Linked DNA regions of Homo sapiens. The protein of the gene in region 2 purifies or fractionates together with the protein of the main gene of each other region. This does not show direct contact. Each region holds a gene or a part of one and is shown on either strand. Other genes may lie near its edges.

Region 1 (7,000 bases), on a different chromosome or scaffold from region 2:
AGGGTATCAGGTAATAAAAGACTACACTATCTTAGTGAATAATGTGTCACTTTAAAGTGGGAGTAGAAGAGCTGTTGAATGTGAGTAGCATAGGCACAGGAGGAGAAAAGGCATATCTTTGGTTATACGTAGGAGGGGATTCCAATGTGGCTGGCACTGGATCCTGACAGACAGCTGATTCTGCTCTGTAGTGGGCGAGAGTATATGGTGAAACATGGATTGGAGTTCATTTATAATCCAAAGGATTAGTTTAGACTTCTCTATTAGAATCTGTTAGAATTTCTTTCTTTGGGCTTCCCTGAAAGAAACTTAGAAAAGGATGAAGCAAGTCACGGGAGGAAGATTCAGTGATACTGACCTATCTATTCCGGAACTGTGTCTGTGAGCTCAGGTTGTCCATAGCCTGCTGCAATATGTCTAAAGATTGATCACTATAAGTTTTCTCAGGTTCTTTTTTCCCCTTGTCGGTCTTACATTTCATAGTCCTTTAGCCCTCAAGGGGCTAGAAGGCAGTTTATGACCTCTGCTACTGCATAGATGTAAGACTAAAGGTTCCAGATAATTGAAGTTCTCCTGACCTGAAATGTAAACTCTGTACAGTGGCTTTGCTGTATTCTTTCACATCCCTTTGAGTCTTTGAAGGTGAGGCGGGCCACACTAGCTGCTGTTTTCCAGATCAGGGCATGCCATTGTTTGACCTGCCACCATAAAACAGTTGTACATTCCTTTGTCTGTCTTTTGAGCTTAGGCCTCCAGACTAACCACATCAGGTCTCCCTAGTGATTTGTCTGCCCCCACCTGGGCAAGACCAAAAAGAAAAACTAAGCAGTTAGTGACATGCAGTGCAACCGGACGGAAATGGACTGTAGAATCGAAATTGTAGAGAGATGGAGAAGAAAATGTTTGGGGCTAGGATAAGTGTTCAGAATCTTAAAGTGAAGTTGTCTTTGTAAACCTCTAGGCAAAAACGAGCTGAGTTGAAAATTGAGTAAGAAAATTAAGCTGTTAGGTCTCCTAGATCTACCTGGAGGGCCAGGCTGCGAAAGATTGGTAGTGATTTTTGTAAGTAATACTCAGAGCAAGAATTGTTGGTCTCAGTGGCTACCTAAGTGTATTGAAAGCTGTCAGTAGCTACAAGACGAATGGACATGTATTCCTGTTTTTACAGATACTATTACAACAAGAGGATCCTTCATAAAACAAAAGGGAAAAGATTTACCTATAAATTTAACTTCAACAAGCTGGTGATGCCCAACTACCCATTCATCAACATTCGGTCAAGTGGTAAGATACAAACTCTTTTGGTAGGGAATTAATTTTGAATTGAAAAGAATTTTTAAAAATCCAAATCTAAGACATGGCATGTTTAGGAAGATTTTAGAAACACTAAAATAATGTGATCCTTTGGATTGCCTCAATGTTCTTACTCAAGTCATCTCACTTATAAGGAGAGTTATAGGCTATTCAGTATCAAGATAGATTTCTTTGGTTTATTTGGTTGGTTCCCTTTTCTGCATATTGTTTGTAATCTCCTAGATACTATTACGCTATCTTGTTTGGGAATGATGTTTCATAGGTTTGTGATGATCTTTACGTTCAGGACTCAGTTTTAACACCCAGCCCAGTGGTTCTTTCATAGATGGGAACCTGTTTCTACAAACACTTCCGATTTTCTGTGAAACTACCAAGCTCTCCCTTATCAAGTGAATATCATCAAAACCACAGCATCCTTGATCAGAGAAGGGGGAGGTTCACATGTTTGCAGTGAAAAGCAGTGTCTTTGATCTGCAACAGCAAATCCTCAGAGAAAAAGATTCTGGGGTTACTTGACCTTCTCTCCTGTTAAGTGCAGTAGGGCTTCCCCTCTTGACTTTCCTGGTTATAGCTTTCCATCACAGCTCCCCACATTCTCTCTTGATGTTGAAAGCAGTCTCTCAAAAGACTTTGTTGTTGTGTGGTTTTTTGTTTGTGATTTTTTTCCTTATGCAAATCATACTCCTGCCCAAGAAAATACAGTAGTTCCCCTTATCTGAGCAGTATATGTTCTAAGACCCCTAGTAGATTCGCAAACCACAGATAGTACCAAACTCCATTCATATATATGATGTTTTTTCTTCCCTTAACCCCACTCATATGTATCTGTGATAACGTTTAATTTATAAATTAGGCACAGTAAGAGATTAATGACAATAATAAAATAGAAAAATTATAACAATATGCTGTAATAAACTTAATGTGGTCTTTCTCAAAATATCTTTGTGTACTGTACAGACCTATTTTCAGACCTTTGTGGGTAACTAAAACAGTGGAAAGCAAAACCTCAGATAAGAAAGGACTACTGTAGATTGTATTTAACTGTTTTCTGACCAGTCCATCAGTAAGTACTCTGTCATTGTGGCCTTGTATGCTAAGGCAAAGAATGCTGATCATGCAGTAATACAACTTCTCAGAAAAGCTGGAAGAAACCTGAAAAATTAGTGGGGGTGTGGTTGAGAGAACATAATGTTGAGATCCATTGCAGATATGTAATTACTACACAACAAGTTAGGGCAGTTTTAGCTTGACTCTGCTATCATTACAGTTTCATCTCAACTTCTGTAACCACTCCCTCCTGTCCCTGGGGCATGCATTTAAAAAAAAAAAAAAAAGTGGTATTGGAATGCATCTCTCTAATTACAACCTGTTTTCTTTCCTTGTGCCTGAGGGAGAGGCGTTAGGAAATCAGACCTGTACTCGCCACTCAAATCTTGCTTCCTCTGTTTCTCACTCTTGCCCCTTCCTTGTATGCCTAGAGGAATTGGGAATCTAGATGTATATACCAACAATTTTAAAGAATTTGTTGGTTTTCATACCCCTTCACCCCACTCCCAAAAAAATGTTTCATTCGTCTTGTTCTTCTGTCTTTGACCCATTTTTATCTATTGAAAATCCAGAACTTCAGCCACTTGGACAACCTAGAATGGGGCATTCATAAGCCCTGGGAAGTAATGTGGTTTTCCAGGGCAAGGAAACCTGGATCCTCACTCTGTGAAGAATCTGATCTAGAAACCTAACAATAGTGGCCCAGCACACCTGTTCTGCCCGAAGGCGATTGAACCAACATTGATCTTTAACCCAAGCTCAAGATCCTAATCAAAAAGCCACAAGGGGCCGGGCCAGGTGGCTCATGCCTATAATCCCAACACTTTGGGAGGCCAAGGCCGGCAGATCACTTGAGGTCAGGAGTTCAAGACCAGCCTGGCCAACATGGGGAAACCCCCATGTCTACTAAAAGTACAGGTGGCAGTCACCTGTAGTCCTAGCTACTCAGGAGGCCAAGGCAGGAGAATCACTTGAACCTGGGAGGCAGAGGTCGCAGTGAGCTGAGATCATGCCACTACACTCCAGCCTGGGCGACAGCGAGACTCAGTCTCAATAAAGCACAAGGAAAGCAAAACTGTGTACATTTCTTTTAGTACATCTATCTCTACTACCTGGTTGCTCACATCCTAGGTATAGACAACTGCAAAGAACTGGTGTCATTAGTTTTTAAAGAACTTTTGACCAGAGAGGCCAAATGTTGTTTAAGGTAACTTTATGATAACAAAGGAATGTAACATTTATTGAACATCTGCTTTATGGAGGTACTTTTGCTTAGTAGTTTTGTGAATTACGTTATTCAACTTTTCAGCCCAGTGAAGTGAATGTCTTGATATCCACATTTTACAAATGATAAAATTAGGAAAACGACAGCAAAGTTAAAGACTGATCAGGGTAGGTTGAATAGTTATCTATTGAACAGTTTCTAGGGAAACAATTCCTGAGAGATCGAGCTGTTGAAGTCTAGCCCTTATTTAATAGATCATACATTCCTCCTCTAGGTTGTGATTCATTTGTTCAACAGATAATGGGAGTTCTTTACCTCACGGAACTTACAGTTTAGCAGGAGAGATAAGATATGCCGGGTTTAATACAATGTGAAATGTGATAAGTACTCTAAATAGAGCTGTGTGGATTTAGATCCTGGAGGCCATTGAGATCATGTCCACAAGGTGGGTTGAGACAGTTGGGGTATTCTGGTCTGTGTATTTTATCATGAAAAGCATCCTGTATAACACATTATTAAAATATTTTCTTATATTTGCATAAGAAACATTGGAAAGATACAGAAGATACTGTCAGGATGGGGCAGGACAGACCAGTTCAGGGATGGACTTGATACCGCTCAGTCTATGCCTCTCTACTCCCACCAACCCCAGTTTTTTAATTTTTATTTGGGAAAACTCGAAACCTACAGGAATACTGGAAGAAGGACAGTAAACACCCATATATCCTTTATCTAGATTCACTAATGGTTAATATTGTAGCCACATTTGCTTTATCTCTTTCTATTTATATATACTTTTTAAATCTTTTGAGATTAAGTTGCAGACATCATGACATTTCGTCCCTGTGTACTTCAGCTTGTATTTCCCAGGAACAAGGACATTCTCCTCCATAACCACAATAACATTACCACACCCAGGATGTTTAACATTGATATAATTCTGTTATCTAATACATAGTCCGTATTCGAATGACAGTTGTCTTTTTAGGGTTTAAATTTTGTACCATGATTAATAAAAAAATTATTTAACAATGACATGCAATTTGCTATGCTTGGTACTATTCTAAGGGCTTTACAAATATTAACTGTTAATCGTCATAACAATAGGCCCTGTGCTGACCTATTTTACAGGTAAGGAAACTGAGGCACAGAGAGGCAAGCTGTCCAGAGGCACATAACTAGTAAGTGGTAGGACCAAGATTGGAACCTAGGCAAGGACCTTATGAATTCCATTTTGCCAGAGGGGGTCAAAGATTCCAGTGTGCTACTTGTACTAGGCTACAAGGTGGAAGCTGCCAGAACTGAGATTCAGACCCAGTTTTTTCAACCCCAGTACTTGAATTTCATGGTGACTTCATGGAGGTGGACTTCTAAAGCAATGGTATTCAAACTTTCTTTTTTAGCAGCAAACTTTTTTTCTAAGCAAAATCTTAGGTTTGATATCTCAACATATAAAAGTAGGGCTACTTCAGTTAATCAGAGATAAGGGTTCCAGAATGCTAGAAGCAATGCTTCCCAGTATTGCTTCTAGTCTCACCTCCCATTACTCCACCTAAATACATCAGGAAAATACTGCTTATTATGTCTCCTTTACAGTATACCTTAACGTATGTAAAGACTGAGATATCCTCCAGTTTATTTTTCTTTTTTAATAAAAAACTAGATTTTGGGCCGGCACAGTGGCTCACGCCTGTAATCCCAGCACTTTGGGAGGCGGAGGTGGGCGGATCACGAGGTCAGGTGTTCAAGACCAGCCTGACCAATATGGTGAAACCCTGTCTCTACTAAAAATACAAAAATCAGCCAGTCATGGTGGTGCGCACCTGTAGTCCCAGCTACTTGAGAGGCTGAGGCAGAAGAATTGCTTGAACCTGGGAGGCGGAGGTTGCAGTGAGCTGAGATGGTGCCACTGCACTCCAGCCTGGGCGACAGCAAGATTCTGTCTCCAAAAAAAAAACAAAACAAAACTAGATTTAACCAAGCATTTCTAAGTTGCTTAGGAGACAAGACCTTTCCCTGCACATTATACTTCCTTCTTCTGAATACATAGAAGTGGCTTTTTGCTTTTGAGTAGATGTACTCTTAATTGAAAGTCAAGATCCAAAAGAATCAAAAAGGGTAGAATTGTAGCCACTGTAATAAGCTAGTAGAAGAATACATTTGGCCTGGGACCCTCTTGGCTCTACTCAAATCATTTGCAAGGTCATCCATCTGTTCTTCCTAATTTTAAAATTAAATCAGTGGCTTTATTTTTTTTCCAGTCTGTGATTTTGTTTTTAATTATCTTAAGTCTTATAATCATGCATAATTTTTAAATTTGTTTATATTTCCTCTACTTAATTCCTTTTAAATTGGCAAAAGCACCATTTCCAATCACAAATACACAGCAGTTCTACAGTGTTATGTTTCTGAATGGCTGTTTAGAGGCAATCCCAAATTATAACTTAGTCTGAATTAGATGGTAAAGAATTCAAGAGTGAAGTTTAACTTGCTACTATTTTTAAAGCATCTGATCCTATAGATCACCTATAAAATGTGAGAAGTGTTAAATCTTTATTTGATATTACACATAAACCCACTAAAATGCCTTTCAATAAGTAAAAGAAATCACTTTAGATACAGATTTCTAATTAAATTGGCTATTATTGTTAAAACCAAAAATATAAAGTAGACATTGCTGCCTTATCTTCAGCCCTTGCCTTTAAGAGGCAAATGAACATAAAACACTGGTGAATCTTGCTTGGTTCTAAGACAGTGAAGGACTTTCCCCAGTATTTAAATATATTCACATAACTAGTTATGTAAATCTAAATATAAAACCATTCTCCATTAAGTTTTAAGATGGCATTCATCATCTTTGTGAAAAGTTGAACATTACTAATGAAGTCCAGTCATATATTTAGAAGGGGTAAACAGTGATAGATAGCATTTACTAAATCGGAATTACCGTTAAAATTCCAAAAGCCAAACATATTCATCTAATCTCAAGTCAGTCTTAATTAAATCAGGACTGCCCAACAAAAATCTGTCAGTCATTCATGATCTGGATTCTGGTTTATGAGATCTGTTAAATTATGGTACACATAAAAAAGTCATGAGGCATTTCTGTTTTGCAATAAATAAGGCAGTGTCCAATTATTATCCATTAGTAGCTTTTTTGAGATAATCTATCAAGTCTGCCCTTTTCTGCCTTAATGTCGGCAAAGATCATTTTTGTTCCAAGGATGTACTTCTTGGGATTCTCCAAATACTCCATCGGTATCCTCTCCCCAGGTAATGCCTTTGTTCTTATTGGCATCTGTGTAAGAGAATCCAGTGGCCTGACCTGTCTTCCACCCAAAGAGACATGGAGATTAGGCCCAGTCTCGTGCTTGCCTCCCTTTTCCACAGTGTGGCACTGGGCACACTTCTGAA
Region 2 (6,145 bases):
ATGACATCCAAGCAATTGAGAATATTTTTCTTTTTAAATAGGAACAGTTTTGTAGACTGAACGAATACAACCAACTTCAGCTGGTAATATTTTATTCATTATAATACAAAATCATATTCTACTATAGAATTAAAACATATTAAATTTTAAATTGGGGCCATTTCTAAATATATTTTTATTTTTCTTAAGAAATTATTTATTCTAGCCTTGACCAATAATTGGCAAGTTATTTGTATGATTGCCGGCATATTTGCGGGCAATGCTCATTCTCTTTATTCCTGGACTAAAGTTCTATATATTATCCATACTTACTAACCAGGGAGAAAGTGACTACATTCTACTGCAAATCCACTTTTAACCTCCCTGATGATACATTATGTCCTGGTTGAGAATTTCACAAATATGCTTACCTGTGAAATCACAGATATGTCAAATAAACTTTCCATTTAAGGAAACAGGATAGATTCTGGGAAAGGAAACAGGAATGCTAAACATCAGATTTGCTTCTGTCAAAACTCACATAATCTGCTTAACACTGGTTTTGACCCTTTTGAGTAACATAAAAGTCTTTCTTTTGGGAGGACAATAAAAACCTTTCAGTAACTACAAACAAATTTGACGTAATGAAGGCTTTGGGAAATGCTTGGTTTTAGTTCAGCAAAATTGCATGCTAGCATTTTTAATCGTTATCAATAGAGGAAGATGAAAATCAGTAATGAATTTAATATGGACCCTAATTGTTACTCTAGTTTCCATTTTCAGGTAACTTGTGTTTAAAATAGTATCCAAATAAATTTAAACACATTAGTACCCCAATAGAATTCATCATTATTGATCTAGAAAATTACCTGAATAATATATTTTAGTACCATAGATATGATATGGCTAGTCTGTAACCTCCACAACTGTTAGAACCTACTTGTCCTCCTGAGAGATTTTGTAGTATTTTACAGTGGTATCTCCAGTATTTAACATTGTCCCTGAACAAATGAAGGTACCCAGCAAATGTTTCTTATTAATGAGTAAATAAAATGAAAATACTAAAACAGAATGTTTTCTCCTCCCTAGCAAGCTGCCCATGCCCAGGTGAGATTATTTATTAAATCTAAAATATTTTAGTATTTCCTTCATGTGTTATGTTTTTATAATGCATGATTCTCTTTTAACATAAATATATTCTGAGAGAGTGTTCTACCAACACTATCTGATAATATTTTACTTAAAAGTCACAAAAGACAAAATTTAAATAATTAATAAATAGCCATAAATAGAAAAATATGTAGTCCTAGAGAAATGGTAGGTTATTATTTTTCCTCAGAGTATGAACCTTACTAATTGTTTATTTTTCCAAACTATAGTGAGCTTAGCCTTTAGCTAAAATTTTTTTCTGACATTAGAAAATAAAAAGTGTTTTGACATTTTTTGCTAACTGTGGCATAGAATACAGTCTATTCTAAATTTCATGAATGATGTTATGTATACTTCTGGTGCAATGTAAGATAAATGTGTTGTACCAGAAGATGTCTAAGTAATTTAGAATGTGTTTCCTTTTATGCAGGAGCAAATTCGCAGAATGAATGAAAACAGCCATGTCCAAGTGGTAATATTTTGCTTAATATATTACAAAACGATAATATTTTGTTAAGCTTAAATATGTTTGCTCTTAAATAGCCCCCTACTCTTGAAGAGATTTTTTTCTTCTCAAACATTTCTCACTCCCAACTTAAATCTCAGTTCTGACAACTTCTAAGCATATGACCTTGAGCACATTGTGTATTCTCTTGGACCTTTGGTTTCTCATTTGTGGAGAAAAACAATATGTGTCTATCAATTTATTTCCTCCTCCAAAACTCCCATGTCTTGATGTTTACAGTGACATATTGTGTCTTCACATTTAAAGATAATAACTGTATGTTTAATTCAGTGTCTCTTGTCCATTAATGATTCAATTTATGTACAACATGCTAATTAAAAAAAAAAAAACCATGTAAAGAAAGCCATGGAACATCCTCCACAACTAGAGAAAGAAACTTTTAGTTCCTCACAGTACATCAAATTTTACCCTCAGTTTTTTTTTTCTGAAATTCTGTAATCACTGTCACTGGCTAAAGTAAAAAGAAAATAAAGGCAAGTATTCTCTTCATTTGGGCCCCAAAGAATTACTTGGTCTTAATTTTCCATGTGAATATTATTATTATTATTATTATTATTATTATTATTATTATTAGACAGATTCTCACACTGTTGCTGAGCTGGAGTGCAGTGGCACAATCTCAGGTCCCTGCAACCTCTGCCTCCCGGGTTCTAGTGATGCTCATACCTTAGCATCCCAAAGTAGGTGGGATTACCGGCAAGCATCACGATGCCCAGCTAATTTTTGTATTTTTAGTAGAGACAGGTTTTCACCATGTTGGCCAGGTTGGTCTCAAACTCCTGACCTCAAGTGATCCACTCGCCTTGGCCTCCCAAAGTGCTGGGATTACAGGCATGACCTATTACTTCAATGTAATTATTTTTAAAAAAAGTGTGACAACTATATATGCATTTTTCATATTAATGAGGGTTTGGAGTAGCAATAATTTGCCCTATCCTCATGTTCAGTTGGATGTAAATTACTAAACTAGTGCCTTAGTTTGTTTTGTGCTGCTATAGCGGAATACCACAGACTAAGTAATTTATAATGAACAGAAATTTATTTGGTTAACAGTTGTGGAGGCTGTAAGTCCAAGATTGAGAGGCCAACATCTGTCAAGCTAGGGCCTTCTTGTTTCATCATCCCATGGTGGAAGAGCAAAAAAGAATACACAAGAGAGGGTCAAACTCAGTCAAAACAAACTCACCCTTGCAACAGTAAGCCCACTCCTATGATAATAGCATTAATTAATTTGTGAGAGCAGAGCCCTTGTGAACTAATCAGTTCTTCAAAGTCCCACTTCTCATCACTGTTGTATTGCATGTTAAGTTTCCAACATATGATCTTTGGGAAACACATTCAAATCATAGACACTTATTTCTGTCTGTCTGTCTGTCTCTCTCTCTCTCTCTCTCGGTCTCTCTATTAAGAACAGGGCCAGTTCTATCTTGAGGTAGTTACCTTATTTTATCTTAAAAAATTCTAGATTTTATATTTGTTTTAATCTTTACATAGGCAGGTGTCCACAGCAACATTTTAAATGCTTTTAAAGATTTTCCTAATTCCAGCAAAGAACTTCCACCTGAATATGTAGAGAATTATATGCAACTGTTTCTATGAACAATGCAATTATTAGTACACAGAAAAAATTAAGTGTAATCTCATTATGAATCAACAGAAGCAACTATTCCAAAATTATAGAAAGGAAAATAGTTTTGGCCCCAAAACTCTAGTGTTTGAAAAGAACAGTGGCCTAGGAATTAAAGAATTATTATTTTTTTCTGTTCCTGGCATTTCTGAAAGACAGCTATGTTGACCCTGGGTGCGGGGCCTGTACTTTGACCCCAGTGGCTTTAAGGAAAATTATATATCTAAATGGCAAAAATTCCCTTGAGTTTATAACGTAAATAATAATGAAATGTATGCTACTACTCTCTTCTGGGCTCTGATAAGTGGACCTGTGAGTAATGTGGGTTCTTGGAGTTCAGTTTTAAATAATGTCCTTAAAAAAAGTGATTTATTCATTGCCCCTCAGGTGTCTTAAAAGAGCACCTTCTGAAAGTTTCTTCAACATGGTTCACCATAGAAGATTTTGATTTATTCTTTTCCCTCACAGAGTAATCATTTTTTATCATGCTAACAGGCATCTTGGAAATGAATGAGATGTATTGATATTTTTCAGGGACTGAAAAAAGCAATTGCTCATACACTGTTGCTTTTCAAATGTTTTTCCCTCTAGCCTTTCCAGCAGCTCAACCAACTTGCTGCCTACCCCTATGCTGTTTGGTACTATCCACAAATCATGCAGTATGTTCCTTTCCCACCGTTTTCCGACATCTCCAATCCCACTGCTCATGAAAATTATGAAAAAAATAACGTCATGCTACAGTGGTGGTAAGTTCATTTAAATTACTACATCTTGATGTTCTACCAAAGGAATGAAATAGAATAGCTTGGAGAGGATACCATAAGAACAGATTTAGATTAAACATGGCAAATCAATGCCTACTGCAAAGGACTAATATGTTCTGAAATGGAAAATTGATAATATTTTGTGGGACCTGTGGCTAATATTATCAATTTCTTAGTAACATGTGGAACAGTATTATCTATTCTATAAGTGATATTTATTCTAATGAGCCTGGAAAATAACTTCTTTTCAAGTTAAAAATATAAAGACTTCTGACATGTAATTCAACATTATCCTTTTTGCGCTTTTACTAATCTTTAAATGACTTCCTTCTGGTTATACCTATGATAAGTATAAAAACACTGGGTAGGTAATATAGCACATATTTTGGTGTTCAGTAGTCCTAAATTCAAATCCTAACCTTTTTGCTTACTTGAAATTTTATAATAATCCTTATTTATTATAATCCTGAGGGTGATCAAATATAGTAATCTCTGTTAAGTATATTGTGGGCAAAATAAACACTGAATAGGTAAAAGTCCATTTTTTCCTGATTTAGCAAATCTTTATTAATGACTTCCTTTAATCACATGATTTTAACAATTTTCATTATTTCGGAAGAATTAAGTAAATTCTCAAGGAACTCCACAGTTAGGGCCCTTGGTAAGTTTGGAAATTATGTATCTAACCATTGATCTTATTTTTTATGGTCAAATAGACATCCTTAACAAGTCACATAGATAAATAAAGTGTTAGTCTGTCAACACCACTTAAAAAGGTCTATAAGTTCAATTATTTTCACCACTACATTGGAGCTTCCAATTGTGTGTTTGTGTGTGTGTGTTTCCTTTTCCAGTGGTGGAAACTTCCCTTCTAATACATTAAACCAAGGAAAATGACCAAATTTTAACCTATGTGAAAGCCTTTTATTCTAATTGCATTGCCATATCTTCAGTAATACCACAAAACAAAATACAATTTAGTAATAAAAATGTCTTTGTAGCTTAAAAACCAAGAGCAATGGATAGGTATGTCAGTAACAGGAAAGCATAAATAACATTGTGAGCTTGTCTAATACGAAGAGAAAATAGTAAAACGTGTTCTACCATAAGAGCTTTTCTTTTCTTCAAAAATATTTAATATAACTCACCACATATTTCTATTTCTATTTACAGATATGATTGAAAATTTCATTCTCTGAATTTCTCCTCTCAAGGAAAACCATCTTATCTGAAGACTGGACTGTTGTTTTAGAATAGTAAAATCCCATATTGAAGGAAATTGTTCTTTTTGAGTTATCTACTTAATAGCATATCATTCTTTTTCTTAAGCTAAATTTTCCTAGAGAGTTTATTGTCTAAATTTCAGTTGTGTCTTGCCATATGGAGGGCACCTAATCAGAGGGTATTAAAGTGTTTACTAAGTTTTCTAGTGGACATTTTGTTTAAAAAGTCTTTGAATTGCCAGTTCTGTAAGTGCCATCAATTAAAATAGTTTTGTGCAGTGACAGAGATTTTCTTTTTTCTTTTCAATAAATTACACTTTAAGGCAAAAGCCGTATTTTCCGTCATCATTCCATTCAACAGTATTTACATAATCATCTTAAGAGTCTTTGCATGTAACATTTGTTTTCATTAAATTAAAATCCATATTTTCTGTCATTATTCCATCACCAGTATTTACATAATCCTATTAATAGTGTCATGTATGTAACATTTTGTTTTCATTAATTTTTTATGACAATTTCAATCACATTTTAGTGAAGAATTGTAGAACTGTTCACTTCTGGATGGCACTAGCAGCCAGATCATAAAAGGCATTTATAAACTTGTCCAATATCTTTAATTTATAGTCAGTGGTTTGTAGAACATTTTCCATGAGGACATTGTCAGAGCTGCAGAGAGGAACAACAGTGTGGCAGTTGTGGGCACACTAGAGTTTGAGCAACCTGACTATACAGTTTACTTATGCCATCTGGACCTGTTTGAGTCCAATCCGGTTGATTATACCTAAGTTTATAGCTAGAGAAATAGATAATAGTCATTAAAAGATCAGCTCAGGAACACAGTAACCTGGTGTCCTTCAGAGCTGAAGTAGGAGCT
Region 3 (7,000 bases), on a different chromosome or scaffold from region 2:
CTGGCCTGGTCTGAACTGCCTCAGCCCCCAGTGTCGGGATTGTAGTCATGAGCCACCGTAACCAGCCTTGATGAGATGTAATGTTCCTATTCTGCCTTCTTGAACTTTGCTCAGTCAGTACAAGTATTCTGTTCAAACTGATTAATTAAACCCAGGAACTGAATACATTTAGATAAAACTTGCTACTTGAGACTGGGGCACTGGGTAGATTCGAATGATGCCGTATCTCGTGATGTCTACCCTCTCACTATCCACATTCAGGGATGGAAAGGATTTGGGGAGTGAGGAATGTTTATAGAAGTTCAGCCCAGCTCCCTGCTGTAGAATGTTCTTGTATGAGCAGTCCAGCAGTCAGTAAAGCAACCCTTTTCATTGTTGAACTGCTCTCATTCTTAGAAAGTTCTTGTTTCTGTTGACTTGAAATTTGCTTCCGTGGTTTAATTTTTCCCGCTGTTCCGAATTCTTTCACGTGCCACGCAGGATGTGCCTGTTCACTGAGTTCATAATCTTACTTCTCATGGGCCTTGTACTTAGCCTTCTTCAAGCTGATCATGCCTCAGGTTTTGCCTCCTTCTGTCACCAGGCCTCCTCTTCTGGGCGCCGGCCTCTGGCTCTTCCCTTGGGGTCTGGCCAACACCGCAGGCTTTGGGCCAGCATCAGCTGCTCCCAGGCTCTTAGCTCTTGGGAGTTGCTCCTCCATCCTTTGCCTCCCTGGGCACTGACATTGCACCTGGTCTCAGTCCAGGCTTGGCCAGCCTGACCGGCTCTGTGGGGCCTCCTCTCCCTATAGGATGGCCAGACGCCGCGCCCTCCCACTGTGCTCCAAGGCCCCACCCTGCCTCTCTGGACACTGGATCTGTAGTGTAACGGGAACAGGTCACATGACAGTTTCCTTTCTATAACTTTTTATCTTCTGTAGACTATTGAGATTTAGTAAACATGTCTGTTTGCACATGCTTAAAATGGTTGGAATGTTTTGCCTTGTCTGTGTTTGCAAGCGATGAAAATTAAAGGTGGTAGGGATTATATTGATTTGTTTAATCTTGGACTCGACATCTTCAAAGCTATATTTTTTGGGTGATACTTGAAAATCATACAATGTCTGCCTGTTTATTTATTTATTTATGAGATGGAGTCTCATTCTGTCACCCAGGCCAGAGTGCAGTGGCACGATCTCTGCTGATTACAGCCTCTGCCTCCAGGGTTCAAGCGATTTTCAGCCTCTGCCTCCCGAGTAGCTGGGGTTATAGGCGCCTGCCACCATGCCTGGCTAATTTTTTTATTTTTAGTAGAGACGGGCTTTCGCCATGTTGGTCAGGCTGATCTTGAACTCCTGACCTCAAGTGATTCGCCTGCCTTGGCCTCCCAAAGTGGTGGGATTACAGGCATGAGCCACTGAACCAGGCCAGTTTTTTGTTTTGTTTTGTTTTTTGTTTTTTAAGACTTAACTTTGTTACTCTTTGTTTTGTTTAACATTTCAGGATCATATGCCAAGTAATAGAGGAACATTTGTTAGGTTGGGCTAGGAATGGGGACTGGGGTAAGGCCGACTGTAGTTCTAAGAAGAGGTTCCAGTTTAACACCATTTCTTTAAAGAATTTTACCGTATTTTAATTCAGAGCAAAAGCCACACAGCTGCATATAGGCGTAAGTGAGTCCTTTGAGGAAGTAGGTGACTGAGCTGTAACAAGTCAAGATCATACAGCCGAGGGATTGCAGTGCATGTCTCTTTTCATTCTGAAAGAACTTCTCACTATTTAAAAACTATTTTTAAAGTTACGAAATATTTTGAAATATAGTAAACTTTTTTGGCCTTTTTTTCTTCTTTTGCTTCTTGTCTTCAGTCTGCATATTTTTTTTTTTACCGAAAGCCCACCTCTCTAGTAAGTGTGAAAGGAAGAGAGTGAGAAACTGGTGGTGTGACCTCTACTCTGGAGCCCCGTGTCCCTTCTGAGAAAGATGCCTCTTGTTGTAGAGAGGACACACAGTGGTTCTGCTCAGCTGCACTTGGGCATGGAGAACAAGAACCGATATAGACGAAGGCCTGAATCCGCAGAGGGAGACCCTGGGTTAGGAGGCACTTCTGCAGCCTTCAGAAAATGCAGACAAATTAATTCACTTATTGGACTGCTTTAATAGAATAGTGGCTTGCTCTGTGGATTCACAGAGGATTATTTGAGGTCAATGATTGGAATGTGATTTTAGAAAATATTCTTTCCTTGGAATTCTTTGGTTTTATGCTGTAATGTAGTTTGTTTGTTTGCTTTAAAGGAAAGTTTGTGCTTTCAAGGAAGGTTTTAGGATGAAATGGCCAAAAATCAAAAAACAAAAATGATCATCTTCACTTGAATGCGGGTGCTACATGAGTCTAGCCTTAGATTTGTATTATTCCAAAGTTAGGTAAGTGAGGTCAGCCACAAGATATTATACACTAGACATTTTACATTGATTTAAATTATATGGTTGGAGCTTGAATAGATTTTATAATATTCTTTGGACCAAACCTGCCTATCAGAATCACCTGTGAACAGTTTTTTAAAATAATAGCGACTTTGATCGCACACGTGGAGGTGCAGATCTAGCCAACATACTGTTTTAGGAACAGCTCCTTGTATTGTCTGTGCCATGCGTGTGTGTGCGCCATGCATGCACGTGTGGGGTGTGTTTGTGTGCACTTCTGTGTGTATCTACGCCTGTGTGTGAGTGACCACTTGATCATGCACACACATCCCTTAGAGGCACGGACTTGTGGACTTATCGGTCAGTTAGGAATGTGTTGTGTGCACGTGTGTCTATGTGCGTGTTGCATGCAAGTGTGAGGTGTCTGTGACTACACACATGCCAGTCTCATTATTCCCAGCTTCTCATACTGCAGTTGTTTTTGTTTGGTACAAAGGTGGAAGCTCTGCCAAGGTTTTTTCTTGATGCGAGCCAGGATCGAAGGGCTATGGTGTTTAAAGCTTGCGAGCTGAAGGCCCTTGGAAGGCAGGAACCTCAGATAAATTGTAGTCTGTAAGATTCCTGGTCGTTCTCTGGGGGGAGTCAACAATGATCTGTGCTTCACTCCCAGCGTCTGTTGACCATGCTTGGCTCTCAGGAGGCCGGACCAAGGACAGCGTTTGCACTCCTGGTCTCACCACGCCCAGTGTTGGCTTAGGGAACCTCTTGTGAATGCAGCCATGGACATTTGCTTTTCAGAGAACGAGAGTGAAGGTTTGGGGAATGTTTCTGTCCTTACCTATATTGGCAGTAGGCAGTGTGAGAGGTGGTGGTTCTTGGGTTGTGTTCCCCTTGCCTGGTGTTTTCCTCTGATTTCATACTGCTATAAAGAACTGCCTGAGACTGGATAATTTATGAAGGAAAGAGGTTTAATTGACTCACAGTTCAGCATGGCTGGGGAGGCCTCAGGAAACTTAGCATCATGGCAGAAGTTGAAGGGGAAGCAAGGCACCTTCTTAACAAGGCAGCGGTAAGAAGTGTCGAGTGAAGGGGGAAGAGCCCCTTATACAACCATCAGATCTTGTGAGAACTCATTCACTATCATTAGAAGAACATGGGAGAAACTGCCCCTATGATCCAATTACCTCCACCTAGTCTCTCTGCCTAGACACGTGGGGATTATGGGGATTATAATTCAAGATGAGATTTGGGTGGGGATGTGCAGCCTAACCATATCAACTGGTGTTCAGATGAAGAGGTTGTAGAAGCATATCTACTGCTTAAAGAGGGAAATTGGAGTCAGCAAGCTCTGGGCTTGGTTTTCTTCCACATTTAAAACAAACCCAAGGAAGAGATGGTGCAGCCGTGCAAGCCCCTGGTGGATCTGTTGTGTCTCACACAGGTTTTCTATTTTCTCTGTGTCTTCAGCAGTGTGCATCTTACTTAAACCGCCTCAGGGCTCCTTTCATCCCCAGGCCCAGTCCTCAGCTTGACACATCATAGGCCCTCAGCACCTAAGTGTTCTGAGAGGGAGTGCAGCTCCTAGAGGTCCATGTCCCATGTCCTCCTGCTTCCTGCATATCATTTGGGCCCCAGTCGGTCCTTGTTACTGCGGGTCTTGTGCTGTCTCTGGAACAGCCCTTTATGGGCACCATCTACTCACTCATTCACTTCTGTTGGCTGACGTGGCCCCTGAGCTCTCTTCCTGTGCTTAGTTAGGCCGCGCGAGGCCAGAGGTTGAGTGGGGAGGCTTCCAGCCCCTGCCTTCTGTCCCAGCTTCAGGCTGGCCTGGTTCCATGTCCTGCTGTCCTGCTTCAGCCATTCCTCTATGTGGCTTTCAGTCCTCTCACAGATTTCTTCATTTTTGCAAGGTAGCGTGGGAATGATGACTAGCACATGGCAGCACACATCAGGCAGGTTTATGAAATTATGTTTTAAGAGAACACAGAATCACAAATTACTCATCCTGTATATGTGTTAAAATGTGTAACCTAATTGCTGAACAATGAAAAGCAATTCCTTTTATATTTAAAAACTCACTAGTTAGCTGAGAACCTAATGGTAGTTGCAATGTACTTTAAATAGAAAAGTCCTCTTGCTTGACAAAGGTAAAGGAAACTGTTCGGTCCGACTTTGTTCCTTTCATGCCTGCCAGGGCTTCTGGTTTCACGGAGACCTCAGGCTAGGAGCAGCCCTGAGCAGGGAGACTGAGTTACAGAGAATCCCCACCAAGTTGCAGGCAGAGGGACAGCCGAGGCCCTCAGGAAGTACACGAGAGCAGAACCACTATGGCAAGTTCACTGAGAAATCTGGAAAGTTAGAATCCCAGCCCGAGTCCATCAAATGGAGCATCATAAAATTAAGTTTTCCTTACTGTGAAATGGCAATTTGTAATGATTTCTGAGAAGTGGGACCCATGGTGGTGTCGATGTCTGAGCCAGGTGAGGGTGAGATCCCTGGCGCCATGGGCTGGCCCCCAGGATGCCCTGGAAAACGCATTCTGTTCACAGCTGTGTGATTCTTTTCTTTCTGTGTTGGTGAAGCAGCCAGACCCGGTCCGTTTGGAATGCCTGGGATGGTGCCGCCGCATGTTCCTCCTCAGATGCTCAACATTCCGCAGACCTCTCTGCAAGCAAAGCCCGTGGTAAGGCCTTCCCTGCGTTGGGTCGGGTGGCGGGTCTCAGACAGGGTGCGTGCATTGAATTTCAACGAATGCTAAAATAAGTTCCTAACCTCTTGAATTGATACGTGAAATAGATGCCAGTGTTTGTTGAAATAAAAATGAGCCAGGAAACGTCAGCCTGGGCCTGAGTCGGGTCCTGCTGGCCACGTGTGCGTGACCTGTGCCCTTCGCTTCAGGCCCCACAGGTGCCCAGCCCAGGGGGCGCCCCGGGCCAGGGTCCATACCCGTACAGCCTCTCTGAGCCAGCACCTCTCACTTTGGACACGAGCGGGAAGAATCTGACGGAGCAGAACAGCTACAGCAACATTCCTCACGAAGGGAAGCACACGCCGCTGTATGAGCGGTCCTCGCCCATCAACCCGGCCCAGAGCGGCAGCCCCAACCACGTGGATTCCGCCTACTTCCCTGGCTCTTCTACATCGTCATCTTCCGACAACGACGAGGGCAGCGGAGGGGCGACAAAGTGAGTGGTGCGTGGGTCGCTGGGTGCTTCCTGGCGGGTAGTGACCTGGGGAAGCTGCCTTCTGGCCTGCCAGCCCAGCTGGTGTTTTGCTCAGAGATGTAGTTTATTGCAGGTGGGTGATGGTCAGTCTGTACTCAGATGGGGGCTCCTTGGACAGAGAGGAGAGAGGAAGAGTAGGTATGTTCTTGAAGTTTCCATGATTTAAAATCTGCACTATCCCAGCCCCATGGCCTGGAGCCACAGGAAACTTTCTGGGGAGGAATTTGACAAGAACTGGTTTGTGTGATGACCAAAACATGGGGGCATTTGTCCGGTGTGGTGCCACTCACACCCGTCACAGCAACCCCCTGCCGACCCCCGAAACATTAATCTTCTGGCTCCTGGATCAAGGGAGCTCTGAATTTCCTCTCCTTCTCCTAAACTCAGCAGGTTACAGGACACTTTGGAAATAACACTGTTTGCCCAAGCAAAACCCTAGAAAGCTGCCTAGACCCAGGCTGGAATTGTTTCCTTAGAGGAGTATTTTAAACACTGTGTGTCCCTGAATAAATGGGTTCACAAATACATAGTTGGTTAAAATTTGATCGAGGAAATCTTTAATTTGCACTCCTCCCTTTCTTTAAATTGTCTTATGTTTAAAACAAAAAAAACAGGGAAAGAATATTTCTTTTCTTTAAGTCAGTGTCTCCTTTTCCTTGGTGTGAACTCTACTTTACAGCGCAGATAACCAGGGCTGGTTGATGTTACATCTGTTTCTGATGTAGGAAATGTAAGAGACATAGGTGTCAGCTTCCATGCCAGTTCTTACCTTGTGTGTCACCTGAAGCAGGTGATCTTTTCCTCTCTGTCCTCTGTCCATCTGTGAAATGGGAATAAATGTCTGTTGACCCAGGGCAGAGCTTACTGAAGGACTCTCTGCCATCCAGGGATGCATACCCTGTTTATAGCAGAGAAGTATAACATTAATAAATGTTGATTTGTTGTATGTGCAGAGAAGTATAAAATTAATAAATGTTTATTTGCTGTATATGCAATGCCAAGACTCTAAAATGAAGTAAAGAGTTGCAATTGAATATTCAAATTTTTAAATTAACCTCTAGCAAGATAATATATTGAGTACCCATTGAATCAGAATCTCTGGTTGGGGCCCCCAAATTTGCATTTTAAATAAGCACCTCAGTCAGTCTTTAGCACACTGAAGTTTGAGAACAACTGCTTGATGGTCTTGGAAGCCCTTATGTGCCAGATTTCTAAGGCATGTGCATTTTGTTGTAAAACGTGACTCATGTCAGCAAGGTCCAAGTGTCTGTACAATACAGTTTTTGTCTTAGTAAGAAATGTTCTTTCTAAACTGTGAAACATAGGTAAGAAGTAAGACAAAAAGCAAAAGAAGTAAGCTTTATGACCCCAACAAG

Evidence for each region. The genes of interacting proteins can lie anywhere in the genome.
Region 1: the proteins of CSN1S1 (region 2) and ETV3 purify together in Homo sapiens (affinity purification with mass spectrometry; 2 studies listed by BioGRID and IntAct, with this or other methods). This does not show direct contact.
Region 3: the proteins of CSN1S1 (region 2) and FAM120A purify together in Homo sapiens (affinity purification with mass spectrometry; 2 studies listed by BioGRID and IntAct, with this or other methods). This does not show direct contact.

The regions. Positions count from the first base shown.
Region 1 is NC_000001.11:157,128,396-157,135,395, reverse strand, and holds part of ETV3 (ETS translocation variant 3), read left to right. Parts: intron 1-1,168; coding exon 1,169-1,284; coding exon of another isoform or gene 1,285-1,316; exon of another isoform or gene 1,317-2,251; intron 2,252-6,724; exon of another isoform or gene 6,725-7,000. UniProt on the Homo sapiens protein: Transcriptional repressor that contribute to growth arrest during terminal macrophage differentiation by repressing target genes involved in Ras-dependent proliferation. Represses MMP1 promoter activity.
Region 2 is NC_000004.12:69,940,978-69,947,122, forward strand, and holds the end of CSN1S1 (alpha-S1-casein isoform 1 precursor), read left to right. Parts: intron 1-41; coding exon 42-83; intron 84-1,068; coding exon 1,069-1,086; intron 1,087-1,558; coding exon 1,559-1,600; intron 1,601-3,872; coding exon 3,873-4,027; intron 4,028-5,218; coding exon 5,219-5,219; 3' UTR 5,220-5,597; downstream 5,598-6,145. UniProt on the Homo sapiens protein: Important role in the capacity of milk to transport calcium phosphate. Casoxin D acts as opioid antagonist and has vasorelaxing activity mediated by bradykinin B1 receptors.
Region 3 is NC_000009.12:93,510,685-93,517,684, forward strand, and holds part of FAM120A (constitutive coactivator of PPAR-gamma-like protein 1), read left to right. Parts: intron 1-4,982; coding exon 4,983-5,083; intron 5,084-5,298; coding exon 5,299-5,585; intron 5,586-7,000. UniProt on the Homo sapiens protein: Component of the oxidative stress-induced survival signaling. May regulate the activation of SRC family protein kinases. May act as a scaffolding protein enabling SRC family protein kinases to phosphorylate and activate PI3-kinase.